Linked DNA regions of Homo sapiens. The protein of the gene in region 3 purifies or fractionates together with the protein of the main gene of each other region. This does not show direct contact. Each region holds a gene or a part of one and is shown on either strand. Other genes may lie near its edges. The genes, in order: LSM12, PABPC4, ATXN2 and EDC4.

The links.
Region 1: the proteins of ATXN2 (region 3) and LSM12 purify together in Homo sapiens (affinity purification with mass spectrometry; 4 studies listed by BioGRID and IntAct, with this or other methods). This does not show direct contact.
Region 2: the proteins of ATXN2 (region 3) and PABPC4 purify together in Homo sapiens (affinity purification with mass spectrometry; 4 studies listed by BioGRID and IntAct, with this or other methods). This does not show direct contact.
Region 4: the proteins of ATXN2 (region 3) and EDC4 purify together in Homo sapiens (affinity purification with mass spectrometry; 2 studies listed by BioGRID and IntAct, with this or other methods). This does not show direct contact.

What each region holds. Positions count from the first base shown.
Region 1 is NC_000017.11:44,056,657-44,063,678, reverse strand, and holds part of LSM12 (protein LSM12), read left to right. Parts: intron 1-7,022. UniProt on the Homo sapiens protein: Nicotinic acid adenine dinucleotide phosphate (NAADP) binding protein. Confers NAADP sensitivity to the two pore channel complex (TPCs) by acting as TPC accessory protein necessary for NAADP-evoked Ca(2+) release.
Region 2 is NC_000001.11:39,573,791-39,581,152, reverse strand, and holds the start of PABPC4 (polyadenylate-binding protein 4), read left to right. Parts: upstream 1-4,362; 5' UTR 4,363-5,201; coding exon 5,202-5,394; intron 5,395-7,362.
Region 3 is NC_000012.12:111,596,296-111,603,776, reverse strand, and holds the start of ATXN2 (ataxin-2), read left to right. Parts: upstream 1-4,461; 5' UTR 4,462-4,742; coding exon 4,743-4,993; intron 4,994-7,481. UniProt on the Homo sapiens protein: Involved in EGFR trafficking, acting as negative regulator of endocytic EGFR internalization at the plasma membrane.
Region 4 is NC_000016.10:67,869,119-67,876,054, reverse strand, and holds the start of EDC4 (enhancer of mRNA-decapping protein 4), read right to left. Parts: upstream 3,004-6,936; 5' UTR 2,794-3,003; coding exon 2,712-2,793; intron 111-2,711; coding exon 1-110. Other genes in the region: NUTF2 (nuclear transport factor 2), read right to left, coding at 5,142-5,255. UniProt on the Homo sapiens protein: In the process of mRNA degradation, seems to play a role in mRNA decapping. Component of a complex containing DCP2 and DCP1A which functions in decapping of ARE-containing mRNAs. Promotes complex formation between DCP1A and DCP2.

The DNA.
Region 1 (7,022 bases), on a different chromosome or scaffold from region 3:
GATATCTTTTTAAAAAATGTAGGTTTAGTTTTTCTCTTTATTCCTGGATGTTATCAGTAGATCTTAAGAAGTAGCTTAACTCCCAAATAAGTTGAGAGCTTGCTTCTGCCTTTATGAAAGAGGACTTTTTAAATCTTGGAGTTCATGATGAACTAATAGTGCTGCTGGGGTTTGGGTGGTGGCGTTACCTATGAATGTCTTCAAATTGTGTATATGTGGATGTGTGCATACGTGAATATATGCATTTTCTGCTTGAAGATCTAAAGTGTTTTTCAGATTCTCGGAGGGTTTCATGACTTAGAAAAGTTTGAAAGCCACTGTCTTAAAGGTTCTTTTTTGTCTTTATGTTTGAATTTTGAGTTCTAACAGTTACATGCTTAGCATATTTTAATCTTGCACATAAAAGTTGATCTCTGGGAACCCCCAAGTCACTTTTGTGTGTGTATGTGTGAGACAGGGTCTTGCTTTGTTGCCCAGGTTGAACTTGAACGCCTGGGCTCAAGTGACCCTCCTGCCTCGGCCTTCTGAGTAGCTGGGATTACATGCATGCGTCACCATGCCTGCCCAAGTCTTTCTTTTTATTGGAGCCACTGCGCCCGGCGTTTTTTTTGAGACAGAGTCTCTCTGTGTCGCCCAGGCTGGAGTGCAGTGACGCGATCTCGGCTCACTGTAACCTCCGCCTCCCAGGTTAAGTGATTCTCGTGCCTCAGCCTCTGGAGTAGTTGGGACTACAGGTGTGTGCCACGACGCCTGGCCAAATTTTTTTTTTTTTTGGAGACAGGCACACACTGTCACACCCGGCTAATTTGTTTTATTTTAGTAGAGACGGGGTTTCATTCTGTTGCCCAGGCTGGTCTTGAACTCCTGAGCTCAGGCAGTCTGCTTGCCTCGGCCTCCCAAAGTGGTAAGATTATAGGTGTGAGCCACTGCTCCTGGCTCAATTTTTGTATTATTAGTAGAGATGGGGTTTCACCATGCTGGCCAGGCTGATCTTGAACTTCTGACCTCAAGTGATCTGCCTGCCTCAGCCTCCCAAAGTGCTGGGATTACAGGTGTCAGCCACCATGCCCGGCCCTAAGTCACTTTTTTGACAATTCCGTTTATTTAGTCAAAATTGAAGTTGATCATAATAATGCCTCAAGCCCTGTCATAGCCTGTGCTGTCCCCTGTACTTGGAACATTTTTCCTTCCAGAATGACTGGAGCCTTACCACCCATCAGCACTCAGTTAAATGGCACGTCTTCCAAGAAGTCTTCTCTGATCACCCAGGCTGAAGTAATTTGCCTGCATTATTCTCTCTCATAGTACCTTGTCCTTCACAGTTAAGGTGACCATATCATTTGTAGTCCAACCTGGGACATTTTTGAGAGTAAAGGGGAATGCTTTTATTTTACACAGGGACAACAGGTATAGATTAGGTTACCCTATTCATAGCTTTTTTTTTTTTTTTTTTTTTTGAGACGGAGTCTCGCTTTGTCGCCCAGGCTGGAGTGCAGTGGCGCCATCTCAGCTCACTGCAAGCTCCGCCTCCCGGGTTCATGCCATTCTCCTGCCTCAGCCTTCCTAGTAGCTGGGACTACAGGCGCCCGACACCACGCCCGGCTAACTTTTTTGTATTTTTAGTAGAGACGGGGTTTCACTGTGTTAGCCAGGACGGTCTCGATCTCCTGACTTTGTGATCCGCCCGCCTCGGCCTCCCAAAGTGCTGGGATTACAGGCGTGAGCCACCGCTCCTGGCCATAGTTGTTTACTTGTCTAGTGTCTGTCTCACTAAACTTTATTCTGCAGGGATGGGGACCATACCTATTTTATTTACTATTGAATATACAGAGCCTTGCACAGAGTATTTAATAAATATTTGTTGGATGAATAAGATGCCTCCAATTTTAGTAGCAGGTGCTTTTCATTAAGTCTCTTGAATTAATGTGGTGGAAGTTTTTCCCTCTAGAGGAATCTTGCAATAATGTGTATTACTTTGCCTCTCTTGGGAATGTGGTGTGTTCTGTACAGTTCAGCAAAGCAAGGAAACACTTAGGCAACTAAAATAATAGAGGGTAACTGATGCTGAGGCTAGTGAATGTCGTTACCTCAGATCTGGAGTTCCTATCTTGTCAGATTCTAGGGAAATGCCACACATTTTTTAGTGATGGCCAGGGACAGATTTGGAAGGCTATTGAGTTCATATGGGTGTTGTCTTGTATGGGATGTCCCATTCTTTGAAGCTTATAGGTTTTTGAAACCTTGGCTTAGTAATATACCTTCTACCAGAGTATAGGAGCTCTTTGAGTGTCTTCTATAAGCTCATGAAATTTTAAGACTTGTTAAATAATTTATTCCTTGGTGTTTTTTTTTTTTTTTTTTGAGATGGAGTTTCGCTCTTGTTGCCCAGGCTGGAGTGCAATGGTGCAACCTCGGCTCACCGCAACCTCCGCCTCCCGGGTTCAAGTGATTCTCCTGCCTCAGCCTCCTGAGTAGCTGGGATTACAGGCATGCACAGCCACACCCAGCTAATTTTGTATTTTTAGTAGAGACGGGGTTTCTCCGTGTTGGTCAGGCTGGTCTCGAACTCCCGACCTCAGGTGATCCGCCCGCCTCAGCCTCCCAAAGTGCTGGAATTACAGGCGTGAGCCACTGTGCCCAGCATTATTCCTAGTGTATTAAAGAACCAAATAGGCTCTGAGTTATTTTTTGGTGTTTATAGGGTATGATAAGTCTGTCACTAGATCTTTAGTGAGTAGTAAAGATCTGAAAGAGAGGTGATTTTCTGAAGTTAGAAAGTTGGCTCTTGTGACCAATGAGTGCCACCATTTAGAGGGGGTGGGGTAGTGTGGATGGGACTGTTAAGCAGGAGCTGTTAAGAAGCAGTTCTCTTCTTATGTTTGACCTCAGGTAGATATAGCTCTTGGTTAGTTTGTGGATTATCTTTGCCTTTAGGGTTTTCCTTGTTTACTAGCATTGTTGTAAACTAGCTGATTACCCAGTTTTTGAGGAAAGCAGCAGGAAGTAATAGCTTGGGGAACACCAGAAATCTTTACTTTTCTTACTCTGTGGCCTGCTTGCCAAATCTTGAAAGAGGTTTGCTGGGAAGAGGAGTCAGAAACTAAAAACTAAAATTAGGTTGGAGGGTTATCTTTGGATTTCGTTTATTCATTCTTCCGTTTGCAGAGATGTTTATGAGTAAGCTATATTGGCTTTCCCTTGAAATCAACCTTTTAGGATGCTTTGCGATTCCTTTTTGGAGATTGACTTAGAATTAGAGAGAGCCTTTTGGGCTACTGCTGAAAACAGCTATTTCGGGCAGCTATTAACATGTTGCATGAATGACGTGAAAAGTTAGTCTCATTTTTAAGATCACGGACTTGAGTTTTTCTTAAGATGGAGGATCATTTAAGCATATGGAAGGGAACTAATGTACTCTGGGATGTCTGGAAGAAAACTGTTGAAGTTTCAGTTGCTTGCAGTCTGGAGAAGCACTAGCCTACTCTATTTATTTTATTTTATTTATTTATTTTTTGAGACGAAGTCTTGCTCTGTCGCCCAGGCTGGAGTGCAGTGGCGCCATCTCGGCTCACTGCAAGCTCCACCTCCCGGGTTCATGCCATTCTCCTGCCTCAGCCTCCCGAGTAGCTGGGACTACAGGCGCCCGCCACCATGTCCGGCTAATTTTTTTGTATTTTTAGTAGAGACGGGGTTTCACCATGTTGGCCAGGATGGTCTCGATCTCCTGACCTTGTGATCCGCCCGCCTCGGCCTCCCAAAGTGCTGGGATTACAGGCTTGAGCCACCACACCCGGCCTACTCTAACTTTAGTCAAAGGTATCATCACATATTGGCCCATCTTGCTGACATAGTAAGTGATCTGCTTAATTAAACCTGTTGATAAAAACCGGATATTTGTTGACTCTGACCTAGCAGGAAATGGAAGAGAAGGGCTTATACAGGAAATACTTAATAATAGCTCAACTAGGGAAGGTATAAACTAGCAACTTCTTGGAAATTGGCCTGTTTTGCTTTCGAATGATAGTTCACTTCAGGCTAAGAAGTCTTATTTCTATCTCCAGCAGTAGCATGTAAGAGGAAGCTTGAGAGAGGACAGTAGGGTTGCAGTAGGGGGAATTCTTTTTTTTGAGACAGGGTCTCAGTCCATTGCCCGGTGTGATCTCGGTTCAAGCGATTCTCCTGTCTCAGCCTCCTGAGTAGCTGGGATTACAGGCGCCTGCTGCCACCATGCCCGGCTAATTTTTCTATTTTTAGTAGAGATGGGGTTTTGCCGTGTTGACCAGGCTGGCCTTGAACTCCTGACCTCAGATAATCCACCTGCGTCGGCCTCCTAAAGTGTTAGGATTATAGGCGTGAGCCACTGCACCTGGCCAAGTCCCCTGTTTTTCTATTACTTTGTGTTTAGCCCAAGGAACTCATAGTTTGGCAACATGAAGTACCCTGAATAATGTACAATGCTAAGTTATGTTTCGTGTGTGTGTGTATGTGTGTGTGTGTGTTCTGTTTTTTAGAGATATAGTCTCATTCTGTTGACCAGGCTAGAGTGCAGTGGCATGATCATAACTCACTGCAGCTTCGAACTCCTGGCTCATAGCCTCAAGTGATCCGCCCAAGCTTCCTGAGTAGCTGGGACTACAATCTCCCATCACCACACCTGGGTGGTTGTTTTGTTTCTTTTTAGTTAGTCTCGCACTGTGCCCAGGCTGGAGTGCAAATGATGCAGTCACAGCTCACCGCAGCCTCGACCTCCAGGGTTCGCTCAAGTGATCTTTCCACCTCGCCTCCCAAGTAGCTGGGACTACCGGCACAAACCACCACACCTGGCTAATTTTTCTTTCTTTTTTGAGATGGAGTCTTGCCCTGTTGCCCAGGCTGGAGTGCGGTGGTGCCGTGATCTCGGCTCACTGCAACCTCTGCCTCCTAGGTTCAAGCAATTCTCCTGCCTCAGCCTCCTAAGTAGCTGGGATTACAGGCGTGCGCCACCATGCCTGGCTAATTTTTTGTATCTTTAGTAGAGATGGGGTTTCACCATGTTGACCAGGCTGATCTCGAACTCCTGACCTCATGATCCACCCGCCTTGGCCTCCCAAAGTGCTGGGTTTACAGGCGTGAGCCACCGCGCCCAGCCTAGTTTTTTTTTGTAGAGACAGGGTCTTACTGTGTGGCCCAGGATGGTCTGTAACTCCTGGGCTCAAGCAATCCTCCTTCCTCGGCTTCCCAAAGTATTCGAATTACAGGTATGAGCCACTGGCCCAGCCCCTAGGTAACGTTTCTAAGTAAAGAAAAACATCTATGTTCTGTGGTCAGGGGCAGGGTAGTCTAGTAGAAAAGACTTAGGAATGAACCAAGTAGATCAGTCTTTAAAGTCATTAGACTTGGCAGATGTTAGTTAATGTCTCCCAAATTATTATTATTATTATTATTATTTATTATTTTTTTTTTGAGACGGAGTCTTGCTCAGTCGCCCAGGCTGGAGTGCAGTGGCGCGATCTCGGCTCACTGCAAGCTCCGCCTCCTGGGTTCACGCCATTCTCCTGCCTCAGCCTCCCGAGTAGCTGGGACTACAGGCGCCCACCACCACGCCCAGCTAATTTTTTTGTATTTTTAGTAGAGACAGGGTTTCCCCGTGTTAGCTAGGATGGTCTCAATCTCCTGACCTCATGATCCCCCCATCTCAGCCTCCCAAAGTGCTGGGATTACAGGCGTGAGCCACTGTGCCCGGCCCAGATTTTTTTATTGTAGCTAACTAATGCTCATTGAATTATGGGATGAGATAAGGCAGGGGAAGGAGGGCATTGTGACAAAGGGCCCATAGAAGATTTATGCCATTACACTAGGCTCTCACTTAACGTCTTTGGTAGGTTCTTGGAAACTTTGACTTTATGTATTATTATTATTATTATTACTTTGTTTTTTTTTTGAGACAGAGTCTCCGTCTGTCTCCCAGGCTATAATGCAGTAGTGCTGTCTCAGCTCACTGCAACCTCTGCCTCCCAGGTTCAAGCAGTTCTCTACCTCAGCCTCCGGAGTAGCTGGGATTCCAGGCATCTGCCACCACAGCTGGCTAATTTTTGTATTTTTGGTAGAGACAGGGTTTCACCATCTTGGCCAGGGTGGTCTTGAACTCCTGACCTCATGATCCGCCCACCTCCGCCTCCCAAAGTGCTGGGATTACAGGCGTGAGCCACTGTACCTGGCACATTATTATTTATTTTTTTAAGATGAAGTCTCACCCAGGCACGGTGGCTCACGCCTGTAGTCCTAGCACTTTGAGAGGCCGAGGCGGGCGGATCACGAGGTCAGGAGATCAAGACCATCCTGGCTAACATGGTGAAACCCCGTCTCTACTAAAAACGCAAAAATTAGCTGGGCGTGGTGGCATGTGCCTGTAGTCCCAGCTACTTGGGAGGCTGAGGCAGGAGAATGGTGTGAACCCAGGAGGCGGAGCTTGCAGTGAGCTGAGATCGCGCCACTGCACTCCAGCCTGGGAGACAGAGCGAGACTCCGTCTCAAAAAAAAAAGAAAAAAAAAGTCTTACTCTGTTGCCCAGGCTGGAGTGCCATGGCTCTATCTCAGCTCACTGCAACCTCCGCCTCCTGTGCTAAAGCAGTTCTCCTGTCTCAGCCTCCCGAGTAGCTGGGAGTACAGGTGCGCCCCACCACGTCCGTCTTATTTTTTTATGTTTTTGAGACAGAGTTTCACTCTTGCTGCCCAAGCTGGAGTGCAATGGCACGATTACAGCTTACCACAACCTCTGCCTCCCGGGTTCAAGTGATTCTCCTGCCTCAGCCTCCCAAGTAGCTGGGATTACAGGCATGTGCCACCCCACCTGGCTAATTTTGTATTATTAGTAGAGAGGGTTTCTCCATGTTGGTCAGACTGTTCTTGAACTCCCGACCTCAGGTGATTTGCCTCGGCCTCCCAAAGTGCTGGGATTACAGGTGTGAGCCACTGTACCAGGCTGTATTTTTTTTTTTTCTTTTTTTGGAGAGGAGTTTTCCTTTGTCACCAAGGCTGGAGTG
Region 2 (7,362 bases), on a different chromosome or scaffold from region 3:
GCTTACACCTGTAATCCCAACACTTTGGGAGACTGAGGTGGGGGCGGATTGCCTGAGCTCAGGAGTTCGCAACCAGGCTGGGCAACATTGTGAAAACCTGTCTCTACTAAAATACAAAAAATTAGCCCAGTGTGGCGATGTATGCCTGTAGTCCCAGCTACTAGGGAGGCTGAGGCAGGAGAATCGCTTGAACCTGAGAGGCAGAGGTTGCAGTGAGCTGAGATCGCACCACTGCATTCCAGCCTGGGCGACAAAGTGAGACATCTCAAAAAAAAAATTAATCCAAACAATTTATGTGTATTTATATGTATTCATTTATTCTCACAATAACCCTTTTAATTGTTAATAAGGTTTATTAGTATAGTTCAGATGAGAAATTTGAGGGTCAGAGATGTGAACTAGCTTGCCCAAAGTAATATAGGTAATAAGCTCCCCCAATAGACAATAAGCTTCAGGAGGTCAGAGCTTGTGTGGGTTTTGCTCATCTGTGCCTAGTATTCATTTGTTTATTTAACAAATATTTAGGCCAGGTGCAGTGGTTTATGCCTGTAATCCCAACACTTTAAGAAGCCAAAGTGGATCGCTTGAGGTCAGGAGTTTGAGGCTGCAGTGAGCTATGATCAGGCCACTGCACTCCAGCCTGGGCAACACAGTGAGACTTTGTTGCTTAAAAAAAAATACATGCAGTGGCTCATGCCTGTAATCCCAGCACTTTGGGAGGCCAAGGTGGGCGGATCACGAGGTCAGGAGATCAAGACCATCCTGGCTAGCACAGTGAAACCCCATCTTTACTAAAAAATACAAAAAATTAGCCGGGCGTGGTAGTGGGCACCTGTGGTCCCAGCTACTCGGGAGGCTGAGGCAGGAGAATGGCGTGAACCCGGGAGGCAGAGCTTGCAGTGAGCCAAGATCGCGCCACTGCACTCCAGCCTGGGCAACAGAGCGAGACCCAGTCTCAAAAAAAACAAAAAAACAAAAAAAAAAATACACAGGCTGGGTGTGTGGCTCACGCCTGTAATCCCAGCACTTGGGGAAGCCGAGACGAATACATCACCTGAGGTCAGCAGTCGGAGACCAGCCTGGGCAACATGGTGAAATCCCATCTCTACTGAAAATACAAAAAGTAGCTGGGCATAGTGGTGGGTGCCTGTAATTCCAGCTACTTGGGAGGCTGAGGCAGGAGAATCACTTGAATCCGGGAGGTGGCGGTTGCAGTGAGCCGACATCACGCCACTGCACTCCAGCCTGGGTGACAGAGCAAGTCTCTGTCTCAAAAAAAAAAAAAAAAAAAAAAAGGCTGGGCGTGGTGGCTCACCCCTGTAATCCCAGCACTTTGGGAGGCCGAGGCGGGCAGATTACAAGGTCAAGAGATTGAGACCATCCTGGCCAACATGGTGAAACCCCATCTCTACTAAAAATACAAAAATTAGCCAGGTGTGGTGGCACGCACCTGTAGTCCCAGCTACTCGGGAGGCTGAGGCAGGAGAATTGCTTGAATCCGGGAGGCGGAAGTTGCAGTGAGCCTAGATCGCAGTACTGCACTCCAGCCTGCCAATAGAGCGAGAGTTGGTTTCAAAAAAAAAAATAGCCAGGTGTGGTGGCGCATGCCTGCAATCCCAGCTACTTGGGAGGCTGAGGCATGAGAATTGCTTGAACCTGGGAGGCAGAGGTTGCAGTGAGCCGAGACTGCACCACTGCACTCCAGCCTCGGTGACAGAGGAAGATTTCATACCCCCCCCACAAAAAAAACAAGAAAACACACACACACACACACACACACACACACACACACACAAACATATATTGAATATTTATTTATCTATTTATTTTTTAGTAACAGAGTCTCACTCTGTTGCTCAGCCTGGAGTGCAGCGACATGATCATAGCTCACTACAGCCTTCAACTCCTGGCCTCAAGCGATCCTCCTACCTCAGACTCCCAAGTAGCTGAGACCACAGGCATGTGTCCCCACACCCAGCCAATTAAAAGAAAATTTTTTTTTGTAGAGATAGGGTCTCACTCTGTTGCCCAGGCTGGTTTCAAATGTCTGGGCTCAAGCGATCCTCCTGCCTCAGCCTCCCAAAGCACTGAGAGTATAGGTGTGAGCCACCTGCCTGGCCAGTTACTGAACATTTAGTACGTGCTATGTTAAGCACTATTCTAGATTCCTGTTCTCATGAAGCTTATATACCAATGTGGAAAAGATAGATACTAAACAGGTAAACAGATATAGAACAACATAATTTTGGGTAGGAATAACAGGCTTGAAGACAAGAAGACAAGTTGGTGTGATAGTGATTAACAATGTTGACGGCTACTTTAGACCACAGGAGGTCTAGGAAGACTTTCCTGAGGAGGGAATCTATAGAAGGAGCACTCCCATAAATGTTCCTTTTTTTTTGAGACGGAGTCTCGCTCTGTCACCCAGGCTGGAGTGCAGTAGCATGATCTCAGCTTACTGCAACCGCTGCCTCCTGGGTTCCAGCGATTCTCCTGCCTCAGCCTTCCAAGTAGCTGGGACTATAGGCACGTGCCATCATGCCCGGCTAATTTTGTATTTTTAGTAGAGATGGGGTTTCACCATGTTGGCCAGGCTGGTCTCGAACTCCTGACCTCAGGTGATCCGCTCACCTCAGCCTGCCAAAGTGCTGGGATTACAGGTGTGAGCCATCGTGCCCAGCCAATGTTTCTTGATTTAATATAGTTATTAGAATATAAACTCCATGAGAGAGGGAGTGACTTCTGGTCCACCATGGTATCTCCAGCCCCTGTATTGACATTGGCATAGAGTAGGCTCAGATTAACCATTTATTTGAATTAATTAATATATAAATACACATATTTCTTTAGTCATTTACTTAAATCAGTGCTTTTGAAGGGGGATGTCTGTGTCTTTTGGCAATTTCTGTTTTTGGTTTTCACAGTGATGGCAAAGGTGGTTCCTGGCACTTATGGAAGAAGGGATGCTATATATCTTGTAATGCGTGTGGACAGTCCCATATAACATAGTCCTATAAAGTGATATGACTTTTTTTTTTTTGAGACGGAGTTTCGCTCTTGTTGCCCAGGCTAGAGTGCAATGGCATGATCTCAGCTCACCACAACCTCTGCCTGCCGGGTTCAAGCGATTCTTCTGCTTTAGCCGCCTGAGTAGCTGGGATTACAGGCATGCACCCCCATGTCTGGCTACTTTTTGTATTTTTAGGAGAGACGGGGGTTTCTTCATGTTGGTCATGCTGGTCTCGAACTCTCGACCTCAGTGATCCGCCCGCCTCGGCCTCCCAAAGTGCTGGGATTACAGGCGTGAGCCACCACGCCTGGCCTGTGATACGACTTTCAAATGACCTGCCAGACTCTCATGCAGATGAAAAGTCTTTTTATAATTATCCAAGCCTAGAAGAAACTTTAAACATAGGAACAGAAAGTATTTCTGTGCCCTTAAACACAAACTAAATGTCCGGGAATGCCACCAGCATGTCAATAGAGGGGATGCTTGTGTTTGGTTTCATTGAAGCTTTACCAAAATGTGCTCATCTTTTCAGAAAATCCCATCACCCATGGATACTGCTTGCATTTCTAGTTCCTGACGATTCTACCTCTAGGTCAACGGTATCCTGAAAACTTCTCAAATCTTTATTGTATTTGGACCCAGACATTTACCTATTGGACCACCTATTATTTTATTTTAACTTATTTTATGTCACCTTCATTTCACAATTTGGCATACCATTTAATTTTTTTTTTTTTGAGAGGGAGTCTCACTCTGTTGCCCAGGCTGGATGGAGTGCAGTGGCACGATCTTGGCTCACCGCGACCTCCGCCTCCCGGGTTCAAGCTATTCTCCTGCTCAGCCTCCCGAGTAGCTAGGACTACAGGCGCATGCCACCACGCCCGGCTAATGTTTTGTATTTTTAGTAGAGACGGGGTTTCACCGCGTTAGCCAGGATGGTCTCGATCTCCTGACCTCCATGATCCATCCGCCTCGGCCTCCCAAAGTGCTGGGATTACAGGCGTGAGCCACTGCACCCAGCCCCATACCATTTAATTTTAAACCTCATGCGTGTGTGCAGGTTAAATGGCTCCTAGGTTCCATTCCCGGGTGATGGGTGGGAGGGTGTTAAGATTTATTTGTTATAGAAAGGGGCCCTGGGGTCTCCCGCAGCCGCGAGCTGGGCGGTCCTCCCGGCGCCAGGGGTCGCTGTAGCGCCGCGCGGCCGCGCCGGGTCGCTCTCGCGTGGCCGCCCCGCCTCGGGCCCCCGGGCCGAGTGGGCGGGCACGACTGCGCCCAGGTCGCGAGGCGCCCTTCGACCAGCAGCGCCCGGGGCGGGCGGGTATAAATGGAGCGGTGGCTCCCTCGGCCGCCTCTCTCCGCCCCGGGTCGCTGCCGCCTCCGCCGCTTTCGGGCTTCGCAGCCTGAGGAAAAAAAGAGAAAAAGATAAAAAAAATCTGAAAACGCTTCAAAATCCTGAAAAAAAAAAAGGAAAAGAAAAAACGAATCCTCGGAGAACCCGCGGGGAAGTCACTTTCGTACGCTTCCGGCCTGCCCCGCGCCCGCCGCCGCAGCGCTTGGCGTCCGTCGGTCTCCGTCCGTCGGTCCGGGGGTGAGCCGCCCGCCCGGCCCGCCGTGCCCTCCCCCCGCTCGGGCCCCGAGCCCCGCGCCCCGCGCCTGCCCCGGCGCACCACGTGTCCGTGCTGCCCTTCGCCGCCCGCCCGGGGCTCGCCGAGTCGGCGCCCACAAAGATTTGGTTTCCCTCTGCCCCGGCGGTTGTAATCTTAAACCGCCGGAGCCCGAGGCCTATATTTATAGAGAAACGCGTGTCCCCGAGGCCGCCGTGGGCAGCGTCCGGTCGCCTCTTAAAGGATTTTTACCCTTCGGAAGGGGATTCCCCGTTTAATTTTTTTCCTACTTTGATTTTTTGAAATTTGGAGCTTCGCACCAGGACCGCGGAGAAGTGCAAAGTCGCGGGGAGGGCCGTATTGTGCGGAGAGCCTTTTGTCTGCGGTGCTGCGGCCGTGGGAGCCGGCCCCCGCCTCCCGTTTCCGTCCCGTCTCCAAGCCCGCCGACTCCAGCTCGTCCTCGCCGCGCCGGTGCCACCTGTGAGCCGCGGCGCGGGCCCGGGCTCCGAAGGCGCCCCTTTGTCCTGCGGCGGGCCCGATAAGAAGTCCTCCTGGCGGGGCTCGGGGTGGTGGGGGGCGGGGAGATGAACGCTGCGGCCAGCAGCTACCCCATGGCCTCCCTGTACGTGGGCGACCTGCATTCGGACGTCACCGAGGCCATGCTGTACGAAAAGTTCAGCCCCGCGGGGCCTGTGCTGTCCATCCGGGTCTGCCGCGATATGATCACCCGCCGCTCCCTGGGCTATGCCTACGTCAACTTCCAGCAGCCGGCCGACGGTGAGTAGAAGCTGTGCCCACACGTGCGTGGGAGCCCGGAGGACCCCGGGAGTCGTCTTCTGGCAGGGCCCTCCTGCCGAGGAGGGCGGCATCACGACAGCATGTTGCCACCGAAGCTGGGAGCAGGGTGCGGAGATTGAGAACGCGGACCTGGCATCAGATGACTCGAGTTTCAATCTTGTTTCTACCACTTGCTAACTGGGTGACCTTGGGCTACTTATTAGTGTTGCTGGTAGTGGGGTTGGAAACCAAGGAGACTGTAAAACAGGATTAGAGTGAAGCCACTGGCATTCCACTGCGTGTGGTCCTTGTCAGTGGGGCTGGGCTGTTAGAGATCCTTGCTTGTGCCCCTCACAGGCTGGCCAAAAAGGCGGGACGTTTGAAACACAATTCCCCGCGAAAGTTTTACATTGTAAAGCTCCTGCCCGCTCCGCCACCTTTACTAACCTTGACTACCTGATGTTGTGCTGATAAAGGATCAGTCAGGGCAGGCAGGAAGCAGGGGGAAGGTTTCTGTGCGTTAAACTTTCGCAGAGACTTAGGTTAGTGCCACAAAAGCTGCGTGTGCCAGGCCACCTCCTTGGTCTGTGTGTTTGCCACTGGAGTGGAGAAGTGCTTTACTCTGGACAAATGGTATCCAGGCTCTGTGCTGTAGAGTGTCGTGGAGGTAGTTTAGGGAAGCGTCACTTGAAAATCTGGTGTCATTTGTCACCTCAGCTGTAACAGTGCTTTGCACTAGTCAGAGCCCTTTTATTTCATCTAATCTGAAGAAAATGGGACTCCTGAGAAGGAGAACGAATGCAAAAAGTTGGAAGCCAAGTTAGGACTCCCAGCACAGTGCTCTGCCACCTCAGATTGTGGCCTTAGCGTGGAGCATGGAGAGAGGTATGCTGCAGGCGTGGCAGGAGGGAGGCCAGAGGAAACCTGATCAGAGGCTGCACGTGACTCCAGATTAAAAGGGAACAACTGCAGAGATCATTACTGGGAGAAACAAGCCATTCTATGGCAAAGCATCTCCAGGTCCCTAGTTTTGGGGTCCCCCCTTTGTTTTCTGTCTGAGGCCCAGAGTTACTACCTGCCCAGGTTGCGGCTGAGACCAGAGAATTGGACATGTTGAGAGGGACTAGGTATTGCTACTGTCAATCCAGTGTGCTCCAAGCTGAGTTCTGTCCATGGCCATAGGAGCGCAAAGGTAGCTGAGTGTGGTCTTTTTAAGGGATAATGTACCACATTAGCTGTTGTCTGCCTTACTGACTTTTGAACAAAAGTCGTGTCACTTAGAGATAGCAGAAGCTATTGGTCAGTGTGTCTGCCAACACATACTTCTGCAGGACTTCTCCCTGCTATAAATAAGTGCAGCCAGATTTGTCAGACTAAGCCGGCTTGCCTTGTGCAGTGCTGTCTGGAAATAGACGAGGAGCTGTTGTTGAAGTGGGCTCCTTTACTGCTAATTAATGAAATAGTTTGCGATCCCAGCTATCTATCTCTGATAGCCATCACAAGCAAAGTCCTCTTTCCCTGGACTGTTCCTGACTTGGATCGGTCTTGTCATCTCCCCTTTTCCCAACTACCCCCCACACAGATGAGGCCCACCTTCTGAAGGGGGTGGGGAAAGTTGTTGGAAATAATGAGTGAAAATAAATTCTCCCGGCTAATGAAACAGTTGAGCTTGTGGAGCGGCAGAGTTGGGGAATTTTGTCCCCCCTTTAAGTGAGATGTTGTCCTGAGGCAAGGAGCAGGTTCCACTGCTCTGACCCTGTCTAAATCCCCTCATGGAGGAGGTTCTGGGTGATGTCACCGTTAGGAGATGCCATCATAGCCTTAAGGAAAAGTGGCCACCAGATCTGGGCATCCTTGTTGCGATTAGTGATGAGAAGTGTTTTGGCTGGCAGGTGGTGTTATTTTTTAGCTTTTGGTTCTTTTTGTTGTTGTTTGTTTTGAGACACTGTTTCACTCTTGCTGCCCAGG
Region 3 (7,481 bases):
CACCACACCCACCTATTTTTTTGTATTTTTAGTAGAGACGGGGTTTCACTGTGTTAGCCAGGATGGCCTTGATCTCCTGACCTCGTGATCTGCCCGCCTTGGCCTCCCAAAGTGCTGGGATTACAGGTGTGAGCCACCATGCCTGGCTAATTTTTGTATTTTTAATAGAGACAGGGTTTCACCATGTTGGCAAGGATGGTCTCGATCTCTTGACCTCAGGTGATCAGCCCACCTCAGTCTCCCAAAGTGCTGGGATTACAGGCATGAGCCACCGTGCCCAGCCTACTCTGATATTTTCATATAAAGCTTAAGCCTTCTGAAGTCCAGAGAAAAGGTAGTTTCCATAAATAAATAAATAAAATAAAAATAACTAAATAAACTTACCACATCACCCAACAATTTCGTTTGTAGGAACCAACCCAAGATAAATGAAAACATATATCCACATGAAGATATATGTTCACAAATGTTCATAGCAGCATTATTATTTTTCTTTCTTCTTCTTTGTGTGTGTGTGTGTGTGTTTTAGCAACTCTATTAACTGAACGAGACAGGGTCTTGGTCTGTTGCCCAGGCTAGAGTGCAGTGGCGCATTCGTAGCTCACAGCAACCTCGATCTCCTGGGCTCAAGCGGTCCTTCTGCTTCAGCCTCCCTAGTAGCTGGGACTATAGGTGCGTGTCACCATGACCAGCTAATTTTTTTTTTTTTTTTTTTTTGGAGACAGAGTATTGCTGTGTCACCCAGGCTTCAGTGCAATGGTGCAATCTCGGCTCACTGTAACCTCCGCCTCCTGGGTTCAAGCAATTCTCCTGCCTCAGCCTCCCAAGTAGCTGAGATTACAGGTGCCCGCCACCACGCCTGGCTAATTTTTTGTATTTTTAGTAGAGACGGGATTTCACCATGTAGGCCAGGCTGGTCTCGAACTCCTGATCTCAGGTGATCCACCCACCTCGGCCTCCCAAAGTGCTGGGATTATAGGCATGAGCCACCACGCCCAGCCAACCAGCTAATTTTTTATTTTTAAAGTTTTTCATAGAGACAGGGTCTCTCTATGTTGCCCAGGCTGGTTTCAAACTCCGGGGTATTCAAGTGATCCTCCCATCTCGGTATCCTAAAGTGTTGGGATTACAGGAGTGAGCCACCAATCTCAGCCCCAGCAGCATTTTCATAATACTCAAAAAGTTGACACAATCTAAACATCCACAATTGGAAAGTAGACACAAAATGTGGTATGTCCATACATGGAATATGACATAGCAATAATAAGGAATGAAATACTGCTACATGCCACAACCTTAGATAAACCTCAAAAACATTATGACAAATGAAAGAAGGCAGACACAAAAGGCTGCATGCTGTAAGATTCTACTTATGTGAAAAATCTGGACAAATCCATAGAGAGAAAATGTAGATGAGTGGTTGCCTGGGGCTAAGGATGGGAACCAAACTGCCCACCATCGTGAAGGATCTTTTTGGGGTAATGGAAATGTTCTGAAATTAGTGGCAATGGTTGTGCAAATTTACTGTGTAAATTTACTGAGAATCATTAAATTGTACACAAAATAGGTGAATTTCATAGTATGTAAATTATATCTTGATAAAACTATTAAGTTTTTATTCAATGGTAGTGAGTTAAAACAAACTTTCTCAGCTATGTCAGCTTCAGGCCTTCTTTTTTTTTAATTTTGAAAAATTTTTTATGGAGAGGAGGGTCTCACTATGTTGCCCAGGCTGGTCTCCTACTCCTTGGTTCAAAGGATCTGCCTGCCTTGGCCTTCCAAAGTGCTGGGATTATAGGTGTAGGCCACTGTATCCAGCCTAGGCCTTCTTATTCAACTTCCATCGACCTGAAACTTACTATTTTTTTTTTGAGACGGAGTCTCGCTCTGTCGCCCAGGCTGGAGTGCAGTGGTGTGATCTCCGCTCACTGCAAGCACCGCCTCCCAGGTTCACACCATTCTCCTGCCTCAGCCTCCCAAGTAGCTGGGACTACAGGTGCGCATCACCACACCCAGCTAATTTTTGTATTTTTAGTAGAGATGGGCTCTACTAAAAATTGGCCAGGCTGGTCTCGAACTCCTGACCTCAGGTGATCCACCGGCCACTGCCTCCCAAAGTGCTGGGATTACAGGCGTGAGCCACCACACTGGCCAAAACTTGTTCTTAAGATTGTATTCTGGGACCTTGATTCCAATCAGAGAAAAGTGATTGTATTTTTTTATTTTTATTTTTTTTAGATAAAGTTTCGCTCTTGTTGCCCAGGCTGGAGTGCAGTGGTGCCCTCTTTGGTCACTGTAACCTCCGCCTCCTGGGTTCAAGCGATTCTCCTGCCTCAGCATCCTGCGTAGCTGAGATCACAGATGCCCACCACCACGCCCAGCTAATTTTTTCGTATTTTTAGTAGCGATGGGGTTTCACCATGTTGGCCACGCTGGTCTTGAACTCCTGACCTCAGGTGATCCATCCGCCTCGGCCTCCCAGAGTGCTGGGATTACAGGTGTGAGCCACCGCGCCAGGCCAAGTGTTTGTATTTCTATTAAAGAAAGAATATAACGGGACACCATTGACGACCTGCTCCATTGCAGGCCTCCTTGCTGTTCCTCAGACTCCCCCCTCAGAGCCTTTGCCCTCGCTGTGCCCTCCACCTGGAGCGTTTCTCCCCAGGATCCTCATGCCCATGCTCATTTGGGTCCCTGCCCCATGTCACCCTCTCCAGGAGCTTCCCCTCACAGCAGCCCTGGCCTGTACCACAGCCGGGTACAGGTATTTTTTTGTTTCAACTGGTTTTTTAGTTCCAGTTTCCTTTAGGTTACTTTATTTATTTATTTATTTATTTATTTTTTGAGACGGAGTCTCGCTCTGTCGCCCAGGCTGGAGTGCATGATCTCGGCTGACTGCAACCTCCACCTCCCGGATTCAAGCAATTCTCCTGTATCAGCCTCCCGAGTAGCTGGGATTACAGGCGCCCACCACCACACCCGGCTAATTTTTATATTTTTGGTAGAGACGGGGTTTCACCATGTTGGCTAGGCTAGGTTAATTTTTAAAGGGTTTTGCAATGGTCCCTTGATCTACTTTTTACCTTAGATGGGAAATAAAACTGATTTCCTACATTGGCAGAATACAATGATCATTTTTGCCTGGACTATCTAGGAGGTTAATTTCAGTTGGACTACTGAAAACTGCTGGTTCAATCATTCTCCACGTTTATCTAAGTCTTTACCTTTATCTGGACAGTTCTAGGACATTGAGGGGAATTTTGGTGTTTCTTCCCCTATTATTTCCTGAAGTCATTTCACTTTAAAAAACAATAGATTCACTGCTCAAAAAAAAAAAAAAAAGTTACCTACTTTCTACTTGCTTCCAGTTTAACTGCAACACATTTTAAAAAGAGTCTACTGTGCTGGCTGGGTAAGTTAAATTAAAACTTCTAAAGGGTCCAAGGTCTAAAGTTCGCACATTGTTTTGAGGTCGGCTCTGTCTCTACCGAGGGAGATCCCATTATCCGTAGTTCTACCAGTCCCAATCCCATATATTTCCTTTAGAATCTCATGAATGAGGAAAAAGAAGTTCAAGTGAGGGAACATAGGTTCAAATGAAGGTCAGATACCTAAAAGAGTTTTCTGGTGACTGTGCGCGGCTGGGGTGGAAAAAGTGGGGAAAAGGTACCCAGATGTGGGTGGCCCCGGAGGGTTGCTCCACTCCAGCCCCGGCAGGGCAGGACAGCGCGGCCTGCCTGGTAGATGCCCCGAGCCACTGGAGCGCCTACTGTGTGGCGGGCGGGGGACGGCAGGAAAACGGCAGGATGCTGTGTCCCCTGAATCTGGCAGGGTTCTAGGTGCTTTACACGTAGCAAGACACATTCTCCGCCCCAAGGCACTCGCAGTCAGTCCATTTTCTGGGTTGCATCAGGTGGGGGCAAACTAGGTCCCCGCAGAAGTGAAGATGCTGAAGGAATACAGTAGGAGAAGAAATGCTTCTCTCCTGTCCTCCACACCAGGCAGGCCCCAGAGGCTGAGACCGACACGCCCTCCCCGAAGGGCAGACCCGCCTTGAGGAAGGCGGATCCGGGTAGGGACCGCCGCCTGGCCCTCACCCGACCCCCGAGAAAGCAACCCAGCGCGCCGCCCGCTCCTCACGTGTCCCTCCCGGCCCCGGGGCCACCTCACGTTCTGCTTCCGTCTGACCCCTCCGACTTCCGGTAAAGAGTCCCTATCCGCACCTCCGCTCCCACCCGGCGCCTCGGCGCGCCCGCCCTCCGATGCGCTCAGCGGCCGCAGCTCCTCGGAGTCCCGCGGTGGCCACCGAGTCTCGCCGCTTCGCCGCAGCCAGGTGGCCCGGGTGGCGCTCGCTCCAGCGGCCGGCGCGGCGGAGCGGGCGGGGCGGCGGTGGCGCGGCCCCGGGACCGTATCCCTCCGCCGCCCCTCCCCCGCCCGGCCCCGGCCCCCCTCCCTCCCGGCAGAGCTCGCCTCCCTCCGCCTCAGACTGTTTTGGTAGCAACGGCAACGGCGGCGGCGCGTTTCGGCCCGGCTCCCGGCGGCTCCTTGGTCTCGGCGGGCCTCCCCGCCCCTTCGTCGTCCTCCTTCTCCCCCTCGCCAGCCCGGGCGCCCCTCCGGCCGCGCCAACCCGCGCCTCCCCGCTCGGCGCCCGCGCGTCCCCGCCGCGTTCCGGCGTCTCCTTGGCGCGCCCGGCTCCCGGCTGTCCCCGCCCGGCGTGCGAGCCGGTGTATGGGCCCCTCACCATGTCGCTGAAGCCCCAGCAGCAGCAGCAGCAGCAGCAGCAGCAGCAGCAGCAGCAACAGCAGCAGCAGCAGCAGCAGCAGCAGCCGCCGCCCGCGGCTGCCAATGTCCGCAAGCCCGGCGGCAGCGGCCTTCTAGCGTCGCCCGCCGCCGCGCCTTCGCCGTCCTCGTCCTCGGTCTCCTCGTCCTCGGCCACGGCTCCCTCCTCGGTGGTCGCGGCGACCTCCGGCGGCGGGAGGCCCGGCCTGGGCAGGTGGGTGTCGGCACCCCAGCCCCCTCCGCTCCGGGCCCGGCGTCCCCTCCCCCGCGGCCCGCGCCGCCGTCCCCGCCCCGTGACCCGCCGGGCTACCCGGGGTGGGCTGGGGGCCGGCAGCGCGGGGGAGACTCGCTCGGGCCTGAGCCCCGAGGCTCGGCCGGTGGGCGCAGCCGGGGTCCTCTGGGATTGTCAGGCCTGTCCAGCCTCCCGCAGCATCCCCGCCCCCTCCCCCGGCGGTCAAGATGGAGGGAGCGGGCGGCCTCCCCTCCCCACGCGTGTTGGGAGGGGTTCTCGGGTAGCGGCGATGGTCAGCCCCGGCTCCCCCTTCCGCACGATCCTCCGCCCGCAGCGTGGGGATGCTCGGGCAGCTCCTCCACTCCCGGTTTAGGTGTGAACGTTGGAGGGGTCTGGAGGCTGTGGTGGCGTTTTCCGGAACATGTCCCCCTCCATGGGGGACATCTCTGGAGGGGAGAAGTTAGGGCCGCGTCCCCCGTGCCGGTTAAAGGGGTAGGCACCGGGCTCCTCCGGAATCATCAGGGTCTGTCGGGGCTCTCTCCCCGCCCCCTCCGAGTCCTGGGAAAGATCGGAGGACGGGGTGGAGACAAGTGGGCCTTGGCCCCCGCACCCCTCTGCGTTCGTGTCCGAGGCGGCGGCGGGGGCTCCCGAACTCCCCTGAAATCGTGGGGCTCCATGTGGCCTCCGGCAGCGTTCCACCCTCCCCCACCTGGGGAAGGGAAGGGGTGGGGAGTGCCCGGCCCCGTCCCGGCCTTCCTCCTTCCCCCGCCAGACCTCTCCGGCGCGCGGGTGGTGGCCGATCCGCATTGCTGTTCGAGGCCGCAGTGGAGAAGGCGCCTGTGGAACATCGGTGGGTGAGGGCTGGACCCAGGCTGGACCCTGGAGATCCGGGGTGGCGGTGCTGGTGGCAGGGGGCGGGCACCCTGCGCACTTATCCCAACCCCCGCCCCAATTTCGGAAATGCTAGGAGAGAGAGATTGCAGCAGGGGACGTGGTCGGGTTCCTGAAGGCAGAAAGGCGGGTGTTTACTAGCGTCTTTTTCCCTCCTAAGCCGGGGTTGTAGTAGGGGCTGGGGGCTCAGTGTTGTCCCGGCTAACTGGGTTTGACTCGAGGGTGTGTTTGTGCAGGAGGGCCTGTTGGGGGTGGCGGGCGGTTGTCAGTTCGTATTTCACGAACTAAGAAAATGCTTAGTGTTCAAAGGGAGAAGGAAACGTCAATAGACTCCATTCCATTGTGGCCGGTGTCCTTAACTTCGGGAGTGCCGCCAGAGCTTACCAAGGGCACGCAAGTCCATTTCCCTTGTGCCTCAAGTCCATCCGTGTTGTAGGCACTACTGTGCCTTCTTTAGGCCTAGGCCGCCGGCTTGACGGCGGGTGACCGGCGTCCTCCTTAAATAGGCATCTTGGGCTTTGGAAGGTGGAATAAGAGGATTTTTCATTCACCCGAGTTTTCTTTTTGAAAACACATTTTCAGCAACCCATTTCCAAAGAATTTTTATTTACAGCAGAAATTCCCCATCAAGAGGAATCAGCTGGTTTTTAAGGAATTCTGCTGCCTTCAAAGGGGGCGGAAACAGTCGGTTATTTGACTTTACACGCCCCGCCCCCCCTTCCCCTTCTCTGAGTCTGAAGCATCCCAAACACTACTTAGCCAAACTAGTTCAGATGAAGTGATCGTTTCCCCAAGTAGGGTAACTTCAGTTTCCCTTTTTCGTTGGCATCTAGCGAAAAATGAAAAAATTTAAAATACAACTTTTATAGAAAAGGATGTATTCTGTTTTTACTTTCTTAGGTATTAGGAAGAGATTTGGCAGATAATTCAACATGTTCAAATATATAAACATTAAAACTAAGGTTATTAAGTTGCATTGACTACTAGGCTTAAAAATTAGATTATAAGAGAATTTGCTCCTGAGTAGTTTGAGTGATCAAAGATATTTGGAATGTTTTAGTACCACAAGGTCTTTTTTCTGTTCCTTGAGGCTTTACAACAATTTAAGGTTAATTTAGATTTTTCCTTGCTTTAAGTTCTTTTACTTGAGACCTAAATGGCAGCCCTTATTCTTTCTGATGAATAGGTGAAATTTTGTTTACTGTGTTGGATTTGTGTAATGTGAAGTTTTATTCTTGAACAGATCGTTAATGTACTTGTAGAATTACTTTGAATTTGAATCACTTTCCTGCATTCCTTGTAAATAAGTTTCAGCTTCTAGAATCTCCTCACTTAGGTTTGTGCGTATCAACAGTGAAAATAAGTCTCTGAGAGCAAGGGTGAAAAAAAATGCAGCATTCGGTTTGACAAGTTTCGAGATAGCAAAATATGCTTGAAAGTCTGGAAATTCACATCTGCTTTAAGAAACATTTCATAATTTGACTTTGTGTGTGTGTGTGTGAATAGTTTTTCATGACTTTCAGAAGTGATTTATTTTGTTCTTTGTTATATATATTTTTGAAGGTGGCTGTTTTAGGAA
Region 4 (6,936 bases), on a different chromosome or scaffold from region 3:
AGTCTTGTTTGCTGAGGTACTATCACCTGAGCAGAGCGGGTCTGGGACCAGAAGTCCATTGAGGTCCCCATTGTAGGCACTGGATGGCCGTGGGCTCTCTGCACTGGGGCCTGGGGACAAAGAGGGTCATTCTGATAAGGTTGCTCGACCTGCCCACAAGCCTCTCCCCTTTCAGAGTTTCCTTCAAGAACTATGAGGTGCTCTAGGAACACTCAACTGAGCAAAGCATGTCCATGAGGAGGAGGGCCCTGTGTTCATCTCTCGTTCCATAAACACTGATGTAGGCAGGACCAAGGATGAGCATGAGGCTCTTCTACCTGGGGGAGGGGTACAAGCCATCAAGGACCCTTTGAGGGCAGTGAATACTCAGGTCTGGGTCACTACAGAAGAACTCTGTGGACTGAGTGAGGGCATAGGAGGGGTCAGGAAAGACTTTATACAGCAGTTAGTGTGACCAGAACACACAAACACAGGAAGGATGGAGTGAAAACAAAGCTACAGAGGCATCAGGTATGATGCCGTGGCACTTAGACTCTCCCTGTGGGCCATGAGAACCATAAAGAGTTTCAAAAGGGAAGGTGATGTGGTCAGTTCTGGCCAGTGGGAAGATTACTCTAAGATAGCATGCAGAATGGTTGAGAATCTGGGTGAGAGAGATCAAGGCCTAGACCAATGTAGTGTCAGAGTTTGGAGAGAAGATGGGCTCCTAAGGCATGGAAGGGCACTGGTAAGATGTGGAAGGGGCTGCCCCACACAGAAATGGCTCAGAAGAAGCTATCTTGGGCAAGTAAACACAGAAGGCAGGGACATAAAGGAGCTGGACCAAAAGGAGAGAAACTATGGGGCAGCGTGTGGAGTAAGGAAAGACAGCATTTCAGTTCTTTGCAACTGGCTGGGTTTCAAACACTCTCATAGGCTCAGACACCATTTCCAAAATCCCCAGGTGGCAAGGAGCCTAGGGCTCCACATTCAGAACATAGCAAGTTTCCAGTCACAACAGTCTTTGAATTATTTTGGCGCGATCTCGGCTCATGGCAACCTCTACCCCCTGGGTTCAAGGGATTCTCCTGCATCAGCCTCCCAAGTAGCTGGGATTACAGCTCACCTAATTTTTATATTTTTAGTAGAGATAAGGTTTCACCATGTTAAGAAACCATGTTGGCCAGGCTGGTCTCGAACTCCTGGCCTCAAGCAATCCACCCACCTCGGCCTCCCAAAGTGCTGGGATTACAGGTGTGAGCCACCGCGCCCAGTCCTCAATAGTCTGAGTTCTGACCTGGTCGTCCAGTGAGAGGAGACAAGAAAGAGCTGCTTGGCAAACAAGGGAATCAAGTGCCAATCAATAAACAAAGTAGTTATAAGGAAAGCCTCCAGGCCACTTCATTCAGATCAGAGCCACTTTAGCTGCTCAGGGACAAGCTGACAACTCTCCCTTCCATGAAGGGTACCATGAGGACAACCAAAAAGCAGGCTCAGGCTGTACATGGTTGGCCATGCCAGGCTCTACCAAATCTCTGCGGAGTCTAGTCTACAAAGCAGCTGAGCAGCAGGAGAGGTCCACGCCCAACTCATGAGTAAAGAGGGCACACACTCCAGGCCTGGGACAAAGGGCCGAGTGGTCTCAGGCAGCAGATGGATTTTCTGAAAGTAGGGGTTAGTTGAATCCACCCCTAGTGAGCACCAGTGCCTGCTTCCAGAAGCAGCCAGTCTGGGCCTCCCAGCAGGTGTAAGAACAAGATCTGAGGAAACACAATTCTCCACTGTACGCCCACACCATCATCACCGGCCACTTCAGAGATCCCTAAACCTGTCAGTAAACTAGTGCCTGCACACGTGCTATTTCCTCTTCCTAATAGGTGGCTTCTCCATAGGTGCCTTGGGTGCCTTTCCTGACACCCAAGCCCCTGTTCACATTACAAGACCTAGCCCAGTCTCCCCTCTCAGACCTGCACTCTGCACTCACCAGCCTCCACCCTTCCCACGCCCATCACAGTATCGAGACACTCCTTTCTTTCAATGACAACAGTATATTACAACCCTGTTAGCTGTGTCTTGGGGAATCTTTGGGGGCAAGACTAGTTCTGAGGTATCATTAAGAGCCAAAGCGAAATATGAATGAATGGGAACCAATTAGGGCTTGCAGATATTTGTAGCATAATTCAGTCAGGGTGGTGCGGTCTGTGATTTGCCTTCATCCCAGAAAGAACACGGAATTGAGACTGGACACCTTCCTCCTGGAAATCAGTTTCAGAACGGGAGGCCTGGAGTCTTTATTCCAGAGAGAAGGGCAAGTTATGGAGGGGGACCGGCAGCTCTTCAGCATCGCGCTTAAGCCTGGGCCCAGAATTCCATATACGGAGCCCAGACCAGGCCTCTGAACCATGGAGAAAGGGAAGAGGAGCTAGGCCAGTCCCAGGAACACTAGAGACCTCGGGGCCAGGAAACCAGAGGGCCCCAGCGGATTCAGAGAAGGCGCCTCACCTTCAACCGAGACGCTGAAGGACAAGGCAGAACAGCCTGAGGACAAGATAGGGAGGGGTCACACCCAGGGGTCTGCGCCCTTCGAGGGGCACAGTCAATCCCCGTCCACCCTTACCCGCCGGGAGGATCCAGAGCTAGTCCTAAGGGAGCTGTGGGCCCCAATGGCGGTTCAGACGCGCGCCGCCCTTTTGTCAGCTCGCCTGGGGCCCACCCCCGCAACCCCCGCTCACCGCCCGCGGGCCGGTCCAGCTTGAGGATGTCCCGCAGGTGCTGCGTGGCGTCCTCGATGTCGATGCTCGCGCAGGAGGCCATGGGCCCTGCGGCGGGCGCCCCGCCCGCACCGCGTTCGTTCCGCCGCCGCCGCGCACCACGCACCCTCGCTCACCCGCCACGGGGCGAGACAGCGGGACGCCGGTCACTACACAGTCCACCCGCAGTTCGCAAACCGCCACCCGCGCAGCGTCGCTGAGCCCCGCCAACCCCACCAACCGCCTCCACTTCCGGCACCCACGAGCCGAGGCTCCCGGAACCTGCCAGGGCCGGAGAAGAAAGGTTCCGGGCTGGGGGCGGAAGCCTAAACCCCTCCCGCAGCCAGTCCCCCTCGGCGGCCCCGCCCCTGTGTCCGCGAGGTCAGGAAAGTCCCACGGGGCTGAAGTAAGCGTCCACGCACTGGGCCACCTAAAGCCCTACTCGACTCAGAAGGCGCCAGGTCCCTGCCCACTCCCAGAGCATGGACTCCGATGGTCCTGGGACGGGGTCAACTTAGCCGCCCATGCTAAGGTCCCTCAGACCCCCAGAATATGCTGAATTGGCAGGTGCCTCAGGTTCCCTTTGGGAATGGGTCGGAATAACTCAAGGCCTGAGGCTACCCTCGAGGTCATAAAACTCAGGAATTGCAAGAGCAGGGGAGATGATCCCACTACAATGACCAGTCATTGTTCCCTACTGTCCCCCAGCATCCCCTTGTCCCACCTGGCACCCTCAGGTTGGAAGAAAGAAACCACAGTTTACAAATTCTTCTTTATTGCAGACAGTTCAGGCACAGGTACATGGAAGAAGCCGTATTGCAGATTTTACACAAGGTGGTTTGAGGCAGCAGGCACCTACCTCTTCCCCACCCCCACTTCCCCAAATACACATCAGCCTAGAGATCATTCCCACTGAAATCTCCTGAGCATGCTGTCCTCTCAAACAGCACACCATCCAGCCCTGTGCCCAATGTCACCAGGCAATCTGTGGGATCTGAGGAGGTCCTTAGCCTCCACCCGTAGTGGGACAGGGGAAGGGTATCCTTTTACATGTCAGATTTAGCTGTGGTGTCCTTACCAATCCTAAAACCCTTAACAGGGCACTGACCCAAATCTTGGGTTTGGTTCTAGCCTATGGTTGCTACATTGCCACTAGGTTTATACCATCCAGAAGTCTGTGGGACAAGGGGCTAGATTTGTACTGGGCAAGGCCTTTGTCCCCAAAATGGAGAAGCAGAAACTGCCCTAATAGCTAAGACTCCCCGGAATTGGAAGATAGCATGAAGTCTGTATGCTGAGGAAGGAAGTGGAGAGAGGCCTGGCAATGTCCTGCAGCAGTCTGAGGGGTGAGGACTCCTAAAGCATGAGTCCCTCACAGACTGCCTCCTTCCACAGCTCCTGACCTATACTCCAACACAACTGGGCCTGGCTCTGTGGGCAGTGGAGGCTGGCTCTTCGGGTTACCTGCCTTTGGGTAAAGATATCCAAAGCAGATGGGACAGGAGCTGAGCTGCCCTCTGCCTGGCTTGGTGTATGTGGGGCATCCTGGATATGATCCTGATCCTTCTGGGGATAGAGCAGGCCCCTCCCTTGATACTGCTGACAACTCAGCCCGGAGGGCCTGAACGTGATGAGCCATTTTGCCAAGGCCTCTCCAGCTTCAACAGGATTCAGGATCATCTCTCCTGCTACTAGGGCCCTGAACCTACCCAGAGCAGAAGTCACAGGAGGTATCAGAACTGACTGCACAGGCTTCAGTGAGAGAAGCTTCAGGCCAGACCTGAGCTCTTCCTGCCTGCTTTCCAAAGACCAGTCGCCCTGTGGAGTGGGAGAGAACTGCCCTACACGGCTTCTGAGAGGCTAGCTGGGAGTGCTGCTTCAGCAGTTTCTCCCTGCAACAGGTATTCAGAGTTGGGGCAGAAGTGGGAGGGTGAAACATGAGAGAGACAACGGGTCTGGGTAGCTTCTGATGCCCAGCCAACTAGTAAACTAATTAAAACAATTTAAACTGTTAAGAAAATTTTTGTGGTTTTATTGTATCATGAGGCATTGAAACATCTGAACAAATCAATGTCTGGGCGGTGAGGCAGCTGCTTTCTCCTTCACTTCTTTGGGTTACTAGAGCAACTTGTCAGTAGATTAAAAAAAAAAAAAAAAAAAAAAGGACAACCTTTTGCATTACTTAAGTCTTTCCAAGGCATGCGCTGGTACAACACAAACTTCTCCCGTCAGATGCAACTAGTCTAGCATCCAAACATCATGCACAACACCTCAGTGGCAGCAGCGCACTGCGCCCACTCCCACCGCGGCCCTGCTCATTTGTGCATGATATTTGGAGCATCTGGAGGAGTGGGAATAGTATTGGGAAGAGGAGGGAGGAGGAAACAGCGTGAGTGCCTAGCTGAGAGGAGGTCAGCCAAAGTTGTGCAGGGCGAGCCTGAACATGTCATTGGTGCAAACCCAAGCATCGTTGATGTTCTTTAATAGGAACATCTGGTGGAACCCCATGATGGGGTCTTCATCCGCCTATGAGGAGAGAAAAGAGGATTCAGTAAGGGGATCAAGAAACAGGAAGGGAATTCAGTGGTAGGAGAAGAGGGCAAAAAAATGTTGACTTTAGGATCAGGCCCTACTGTCCTGAACTCAAATCCCAGTGTAGCCAAGGGGTACTTGTGAATGTGAATTGATGTAATGTATGAAACAATGCCCTGGGCACATGTAGGCCAACAATCAGCCACGCCTATGTGTGCTATGTGTGCTTAAACTGCACAATAATTCACCCTTAGCTACAGCAAAAGAGCAGAGGATGTACCTGCCTCCAAGCACATATCTCCAGACACAAGTGATCACAATTTTGAAACGAATCCCATAGTATTTACCAAGTAACTTATAGAGTATCAAAAAAACTGCAAACAATCTTGAAAACATAGGTTCACTATCCAATGATGTTTCCTGTCATGTAATAAACAGTATTTGAGATGAAAAAAAAGGGCAAGAAACCTGCAGCCAAACTGCAGAAAACTAGGATGAGACCTAGTTGAAATAGGAGCCTAGCTAACCAGCACTGTCTCTAACATCACCTGCTTTCTGGGAATTATCGTCATCAAGGAGGCAAATCAGTTGTTTGGGAGCTCCAAATTGGACAGAATCACCAGGAAGAACCTGAAGCCGGTGGGAAGCAGCAGTGTTTACTACCTTTGCCTGAGAAAGTGAACAATGAGCTCCCTACAGAGACCTCCTGAATTCTGTGCCTCTTCAGGCACAGGCACTGAGCAGGACATCCTGAACAGGCAGGAGAAACTGACAGGAAAGTCCAGGCCAGAAAGCAGGTGCCTCTGCGTCCACTGCAGAGGCCCACAGGACCACCTACACACCCACTCTGGACTCAGGAAGCCCTGTCCCGGCTAGCCTAGAGAAAGAGAGCATGTGACCATGTTATTGTAAGACACAAGCCCAGGCCGAGGGGCAGCCAATTTGTCCTGCTATTTTTGGGAAGAAGGGTGTTTTTGTAAACAGAATCTGGCTTTATTTATTTATTTAGAGACAGAGTTTCACTCTTGTTGCCCAGGCTAGAGTGCAATGGTGCAATCTCAGCTCACCGCAACCTCTGCCTCCCAGGTTCAAGCGATTCTCCTGCCGCAGCCTCCCGTGTAGATGGGATTACAGGCATGTGCCACCATGCCTGGCTAATTTTGTATTTTTAGTAGAGACAGGGTTTCTCCATGTTGGTCAGGCTGGTCTCAAACTCCTGACCTCAGGTAATCTGCCTGCCTCGGCCTCCCAAAGTGCTGGGATTACAGGCGTGAGCCACCGCGCCCAGCCCAGAATCTGACTTTAATATGCTGAAGCACAACAGGTCCTTGGAGAGTTCTTGGGGGGTCTGAGGGACCACAGGAAGTCTCTGAGAATAATAGGTCTTGAGAAGGAGGAAGGAAAATGCAAAGAGAAATAGGTGGCTCACGCCTATAATCCCAGCACTTTGGGAGGCCGAGGCAGGTGGATCACCTGAGGTCAGGAGTTCAAGACCAGCCTGGCCAACATAGTGAAACCCTGTCTCTACTAAAAATACAAAAAATTATCTGGGTGTGGTGGCGGGCAGCTGTAATCCCAGCTACTTGGGAAGCTGAGGCTGGAGAATTGCTTGAACTCGGAAGGCAGAAGTGTAGTGAGCTGAGATTGTGCCACTGCATTCCAGCCTAAGCAACAA